Homo sapiens: one gene and its partner. The protein of the gene in region 2 interacts with the protein of the main gene of each other region in a pairwise test. Each region holds a gene or a part of one and is shown on either strand. Other genes may lie near its edges. The genes, in order: GCH1 and CNRIP1.

The links.
Region 1: the proteins of CNRIP1 (region 2) and GCH1 interact in a two-hybrid assay, tested with the Homo sapiens proteins (one study listed by BioGRID and IntAct).

What each region holds. Positions count from the first base shown.
Region 1 is NC_000014.9:54,892,677-54,896,504, reverse strand, and holds part of GCH1 (GTP cyclohydrolase 1), read left to right. Parts: intron 1-3,828. UniProt on the Homo sapiens protein: Positively regulates nitric oxide synthesis in umbilical vein endothelial cells (HUVECs). May be involved in dopamine synthesis. May modify pain sensitivity and persistence.
Region 2 is NC_000002.12:68,309,867-68,313,694, forward strand, and holds part of CNRIP1 (CB1 cannabinoid receptor-interacting protein 1), read right to left. Parts: intron 1-3,828.

The DNA of each region.
Region 1 (3,828 bases), on a different chromosome or scaffold from region 2:
AAGGATTTAATATTTCTTTTTTTTTTTTAAAGAGATATATAATTAAAGAGAAGACAGAGTAGTGAGAACAAGGATGATGCTGAACTTAAAGGAATGAACCTGAAATGTGGTGGGGTCTTGGACCAACCTGGATGGCAGGGAGAAGGAAGGATACTGGTGGGAGATAGGAGTGAGTGGGAACCCACATCTTTAGGTCCATAAACGCTTCTGCACAATCCCTTTTATTTCTTTAGAGAGCATGAGTCAAGTGGCCACTATATATTGTTTTTGGATAAGAACATACTTCTCTGAAGGTCACTTTTCTGTGCTTGTAAACAGGATACAGGACTTTATATCTTTTATATATCTGTATTCTATATATTAACTCCTGGTTAGTAATGTTGACTTAAGTGTTGTAAAATTTAAAATAAGTTGGTATTTTACATTCTTCAAAATCCATTTTTCCTCCCAGTGCCTCTTGTGTGGATTGATCCAAATTCCTGGCATTCTGGGGAATTTGTTCAGTTTTCCCTACGTTGCAGCGTCTCTCCATGACTGTCTCCTTGTGCACCTTTTCCCTACTTTCCAGTGTGTACCTTCCATGGGAGCATCTGTGGTCATCTGTGACCAGGGTGGTGTCAGGGTTGTATAGGTTTCCTAGTACTATTCCCTACTGGACTGTAGCTCATGGGCTAGGAGGGAGGGCTGGAGGAGACGCTATCATCTCTCCCAGGAACTGGCTGTCCTTTGAATCTACATCACAAGCTGATCCTTGGACCAGCTCAGACCAGCTCGTCTTGATCTATTTCTGTGCCATTTCAGTTTAGCTGTATCCTAGTTCTCTTAAATATTCAAGGTTTTATCTTGGTGAGTTCTCCTTTCTATATAAGGTACCTTTCCTGTATTTCCACTATTCTTTTATTCAGAACCTACACTTAGTTAAATTGGAGAGTCTGCTATTCTCTGAGGGCCTTGATCTTCATGCCCCTGTAACTGACCCTTCCAGGTATACATGGGAACAGCCTTTCAGACAGCATTATCTACCAAGGATTAAATGGGTATAACTTGTTCCATCAGTTGTTTTTTATGAGTTTTTGGGAATATGCAAGAGTCTTGACTCTGTCACATTTCCAGTTAAAGTAGGTTTTAGCTTGTCTGCCAAGACAGTTTTTATAAATCATGTTAACAGTTCAAAATTTTGGGAAGCATGCATATAATCCAGCGTGAGGAGATGGCATTGGAGATGGCTGACTGCTTCCCTGTGAGGGCTGAGGAAGCACAGACACTGGCAGTGAGTCATATCCCCACCTCAGCCATTTTCACTGGAAGATTATGTCTATTCGCTAAAGATAATGGGAGGCAATTAGATACTTTGTTTATACAAAAATGCATCTTAGACACTTCATACTGAAATGTAGCAATCACAAAAGGTTTTTCTTTTTGAATCACAAACCTCTCGGATTTATTAAATTAGACTGCTGTGGTGAACTAAGAATTTTAACAACTTCTAAGATGTGAAGAGGAACAAAAACATAAACTATTTACTATTCTCTCCTATATCATGGGTGAAAGGTGAGTTTATATCCCAAGTTTTAAAGTATATTATAGAAATGCTCTTCTCATCATTAAAAGGTACTATTTTAGATGTGTAGCTCACTCAAATTTTGATCCATTAATAATTTTTGTGCTTGGTTTGTTAATGAACACTTATATAGGACTTAGTTGTGTTCATTGCCAGAAAGAGCACTGTGAATAAAGAAGAAAAAATAACAAGGCACTTTTGACATATTATATGATTGGAATTTTGGACATGTCTAAGTGGAATAAAACAGTTAAGAAGTTACTGAGAAAGGGGGAGAAAAGCCAATCCTAATAGTTTCTTTTAAAAATGGATTATCTATAAACAATTTTTCTGACATGGGAAGAAAAATCAATATACATAACTTCACTATAGCAAGCAAAGCCTTCAGGTTGGTACTCGTACTAGATTCCCAGGGCTGCTATCACACAGTACCGCAAACTAGGTGGTTTAAATGACAGAAATAAACAGTCTCACAGTTCTAGAGACTAAAGTTCCAAAATCAAGGGGTCAGCAGAACCATACTCACTCCAGAACCTGTAGTGGGGGAGGCTGTCCTTGCCTCTTCCCAGCTTCTGGTGGTGGCCGTCAGTTGATGGTGTTCCTTGGTTTGAGCTGCGTCACTCCAGTCGCTGCCTCTGTCAGTGTCCATGTTTTTGTTTTGTCTTATAAGAATGTCAGTCATATGAGGCAGGGTCCACTTTACTCCAGTATGCCTGTGTTAGTTTAGCTAATTACATCTGCAACAACCCTACTTCCAAATAAAGTCACATGCTAAAGATACCTGGGGTTTAGGACTTCAACATATCTTTTTTGGCGAATGGCACAATTCAACTTGTATTAGTACTAAATACTATTATTAAAAAAATTAGTAGGAATTTTACTACAATTTCATTGATCATCAAGTACTACGCACTTCACTGAACGCTGGGAATGCAGGATGAGCAAAACCAGGTATAGTTCCTGCCTTCATGGAACTTACAGCCTAGCAGATAGAATCACATGAAATAGAAATGTGTTGTGAGATTGAGAAATGTGATGATAAACAAAAACACAGCTCAGTGAGAGCACTTGGCATAGGAACTTGACCAATGCCAGGAGATGGGAGCATGAATGGGTGAAGCGATGCTTAAGCCGACTGATGTTCTGAGTAACAAATACTGCTGATGGCTTACTTTGTGCTAAACAGTGAGTTTTTACATGTGTTACCTCATTTGATCCTCACAGTAGCACGATGGGGTAGGCAATATTATTCCCATTTTATACATAAGGAAATTGGGGCACAGAGAGAACTTTCCCAAGACTGTATCTTGAAAGTGGCGGAGCTGAGAGGATGATATAGAAAGAGAATCATTGTAATCTCTGGTAGGTGATTTAATTTTAATAATAATATTTTACTGATTTATTTGAATGATTTCTCCCTTCTTCCTCACCTATCCCCGCTTTTGTATTTTCTCTGCTATTTGCTTTGTCCACCTCTAGAAACCCTTCCATGCCTGGGCATTCCCCACCTGACTCATTTGCCAGTGATTTCTATATGAGGACTGTAATTTGAGTCTAGTATTTGGTTGAGTAGACTGCAGTGTTAAAACTCACCAGGAGAGGGCAACTGTCTAATCATTGGATCCCAGATTATGAATCCTGGATTATGTGAACAATTCTCAGTTCCAGGTTATGCAAACAAATATGTTTCCCATGGTTATAAATTTGCTAGAGTCTATAGTAATTAGATTGGGATATAATTTGTGTTGGGTTATGCAAAGAGTATCTGAACCAAGTTAAATCTGTTATACTCAAGGCCAAGAGGACATTCATTTACTAGAATTTTATTCTATTGGAGCCCATTAGTAGAAATATTTATTTATTTGGAGGCAGAGTCTTGCTCTGTCACCCAGGCTGGAGTGCGGTGGCATGATCTCAGCTCACTGAAACCTCTGCCGCCCAGGTTCAAGCAATTACCCTGCCTCGGCCTCCCGAGTAGCTGGGATTACAGGTGCCCACCACCATGCTCGGCTAATTTTTGTATTTTTAGCAGAGACAGGGTTTCACCATGTTAGCCAGGTTGGTCTCCAAGTCCTAACCTCAAGTGATTGGCCTGTCTCAACCTCCTAGAGTGCTGGGATTACAGGCATGAGCCACCGCACCCGGCCGGAAACATACAATGTTTGTCCTTCATGTCTGGCTTATTTTACTTTGCAAAATGTCTTCAAGGTTCATCCACATTAAAAACATCTATTTTATTTTTATTTTTATTTTTTGAGATAGAGTCT
Region 2 (3,828 bases):
CCATTGAAAAAGCAGACAAACCAGCAAAAAGTCAATCCTTGAAAGATAAAGTTGTGCTAAGATTAATAGCTTCTTTATATTTACGTATGTATGTATGTATGTATGTATGTATGCATGCATGTATTTTGAGTACATTCCCTAACCTCAGAAGTAGGTATCAGAGTAAAGAGTTTTGGATTGGCCAGGCACGGTGGCTCACTCCTGTAATCCCAGCACTTTGGGAGGCCGAGGCAGGTGGATCACTTGAGGTCAGGAGTTCGAGACCAGCGTGGCCAACATGGTGAAACCCTGTCTCTAATAAAAATACAAAAATTAGCCAGGTGTGGTGGCACGCGCCTGTAGCCCCAGCTACTCTGGCGGCTGAGGCAGGAGAATCGCTTGAACCTGGGAGGTGGAGGCTGCAGTGAGCTGAGATCGCACCACTGCATTCCAGCCTGGGCAACAAAAGTGAAACTCCATCTCAAATAAAGCAAAACAGTTTTGGATTGATAGAGCAGCTGGAGAAATAGGGGAACCTCAGGGTGGGTATATCCAAAAATCTCAGTATAAGCTCTCCAGTTCCTTGGCTGACTGCTAAGCTCCATGGGCACAAAAGGAGACCAGGCTAGAAAAGCAGCAACTGGAAGTTATAAAAACTGAGCAAAGAGATCAGCTGCTGCATACTGCTGGAAGATAGAATTTGAAGTTTGAGTACAGGAATGTTTACTGCCAGCTAGAATACAAAAAACCAGTAATACCCAGAAGAATAAAGCAGAAACTAGAGTTGGTAATAAACTATCCACAATGTTAAGTTTGTGGCCAAAAATTACGAGACATGTAATGAAACATGAAAGTGTGACCCATATTAAAAAAAAAAAAAGTCAGGCTGTAATAATTTACTCTAACTAGAGCCAGGTGTTGGATTTATTAACTACTTCAAACCAGCAATTACAAATGTGCTCAGATAAATTAAGGAAAACATGGTCTCAATTAGCCAACATAAGGAATCTTGAGAAACTGAAACTATAAAAAAGACAAATGAAAATTCTAGAGCTAAAAAATGTTATAGAATTTAGAAGATAAGCACAAGACTAGAAATAGAAGAATCAGTGAACTTAAGGATACATCAGTAGAAATGATCTAATCTGAAGATCCATTAAAAAAAGAAAGAAAATTGAACATGTCCTCAAAGACTTATGGGATAATACCAAGCTTTTCAACATATGTTTAGTTGGGGTCCTACAAAGAAAGGAGAGAATGAAGTATTAAAAAAGTATTTAACAAAACAATGGTTAATAATACTCCAATTTTGGTGAAAACATTAACCTCTAGATTCAAGAAATTCAGTGATCCCCAAGGGGGGAAAAACCAGTTAAGATGCATCATAACCAAACTACTGACAAGCAGAAAGAACTCTATGAAGGGATCATTTTACTGTATATGTATTATACTTAAGTTAAAATATTTCAAAGCAAACAAGGGAAGGGAATAAATATAGGATTAGAAAACAATGAAGTAGAAAAACAGAGTGAAGCATGTGAAAAAAAAAGCTAGGATTTTGAAAAGGCCAATAAAACTGAAATCTCTAGCTAGACTAATCAGAGGGTATAAAAATAAAAATTTTGAATAACAAGAGTGAAAGAGTAGGTCGGGCGCGGCAGCTCATACCTGTAATCTGAGCCCTTTGAGAGGACAAGGTGGGCGGATCTTGTGAGGCCAGGAGTTCGAGACCAGCCTGGCCAACATGGCAAAAGCCCATCTCTACTAAAAATACAAAAAATTAGCTGGGTATGGTGGTGCGCACCTGTAATCCCAGCTACTTGGGAGGCCGAGGCAGGAGAATTGCCTGAATCTGGGAGGCAGAAGTTTCAGTAAACCGAGATTGCACCACTGCACTCCAGCCTGAGAGACAGAGTGAGACTCCATCTCCGGGGAAAAAAAAAAAAAAAAAAAAAAAGAAAAGGATCAAAGAGTAAAAGAGTAGACATTATTAGAGATCCTAAGACACTGAAGAATGGCGGAGATTATAAACAACTTTATGGGAATAAAGTTGAAAATTTAATTGAAATAAATGACTTCTAAGATAAATTACAAAAACTCAGGAAATAAAACCTGAATAGCCCGATATCTATTAACGAAATTGAATTTGTAATAAAAAATCTTCAAATAAAGTATAATCTATGCCTTCATTGGTGAATTCTGACATTAAGAAAAATATCATTTCTATATAAACTCTTCCAGAAAATAGAAGAATGAACACTTTCCGAATCATTTTATGTAGCCAGCATTACTCTGATACCCAAAACTAGACAAAGGCATTATAAGAAAAGCAAACCATAGACAAATATCCCCCCCGGAACATAGATGTCAAAAATCCTTAACAAAATATTAATGAATCAAATCCAGTTTTACATACCGAGAATAAACCATGACCAGTGGTATTTAACCTGGGAATTCAAGGTTATTTTAACTTTGAAAAAGCAAGGTAATCTACCATAAACAGAATAAAACACCTTATGATCATTTCAAAAGATACAGAAAAACTATTTGAAAACATGTTATAATACGTTCATGATTAAAAAAACATTCAGTAAACCAGGAATAGAAGAGAACTCCTTTAACCTGATAAAAAGATTTACAATAAAGAACCTTACAGCTACTATACTTTGTATTGAAAAACAGAATGCTTTCTCTCTCAGACTGAGGGACAAGAATGTCCACTCTCACCATTTCTATTTAGCAGCATACTGCGAAGGTCCTAGCCATTGCAATTAGGCCATAAATAAAATGAATACAGATTGGAAAGAAAAGAGAAACTATTTACAGATGACATGATAGCATATTTAGAAAATCCTAGGGATCCTCCAAAAACAGCTATTAGGATTAGTGAGATTAGCTAAGTCTCAGGATTCAATATCAATATACAAAAAAAATCGATTTTATTTCCATATACCAGCAAAGATTCCATTTACATTATTCAAAAATATGAAATAATAAATTTAACAAAATATGTATAAAGTCTGTAGAGGAAATACTGTAATATATTGTGGAGAAAATTAAAGATGACCTAAGAGATATTTCATGTTCATGGTATAGAAAACTCTATATTAAGATGTCAAATATCTTTAAGTTGACCTATAGGTTTAATGGAAACTCTATATCCCAATTTTTGGAGGAATTGACAAGCTCATTCTAAAATCTATATAAAACACAAAGGACCTAGATTAAGCAAAAGAACTTAGAATAAACAAAGCTAGAAGATTTATGCTACCTGTTTTAAGGACTACAATATAGATCAAACAAGATTGTTTTGGGTCTTCTATGTCTTTGGAATTTCCAAATTAAAAAGACATACATTGAGTATGTAAAGCAACTAGAATTCTCATACACTGCTGGTGGATATACAAAATGGTACAACAGTGTGGATATTTCTTACACAGATAAACACATACTTACCATGTGATTTAGCAATTGTCCTCTTAGGTATTTACTCAAGAGAAATGAAAATATGTTCACACTGAGACTTATACTCAAATGTTCACAGCAGCTTTATTCATAATAGCAAAAGCTGAAAACAACCCAGATGTCCATTTATTGGTAAAGGGAGAAATTATGGTATATCCACACAACATAATATGCTACCCAGAAATAAAATGAACCAACTACTGATATGTGCAACATAGGTGAATCTCAACATTATACTAAGTGAAAGAAGTCAAACAGCACTGTTCCATTTACATGAAATTCTTACATAGTTAAAACTAACATATTGAGATGGCAAGCTCAGGATAGGTTAGGTTGGGAGGAATTAACTGCAAATAATTTTCAGGGTAATAGAAGTGTTCTGTT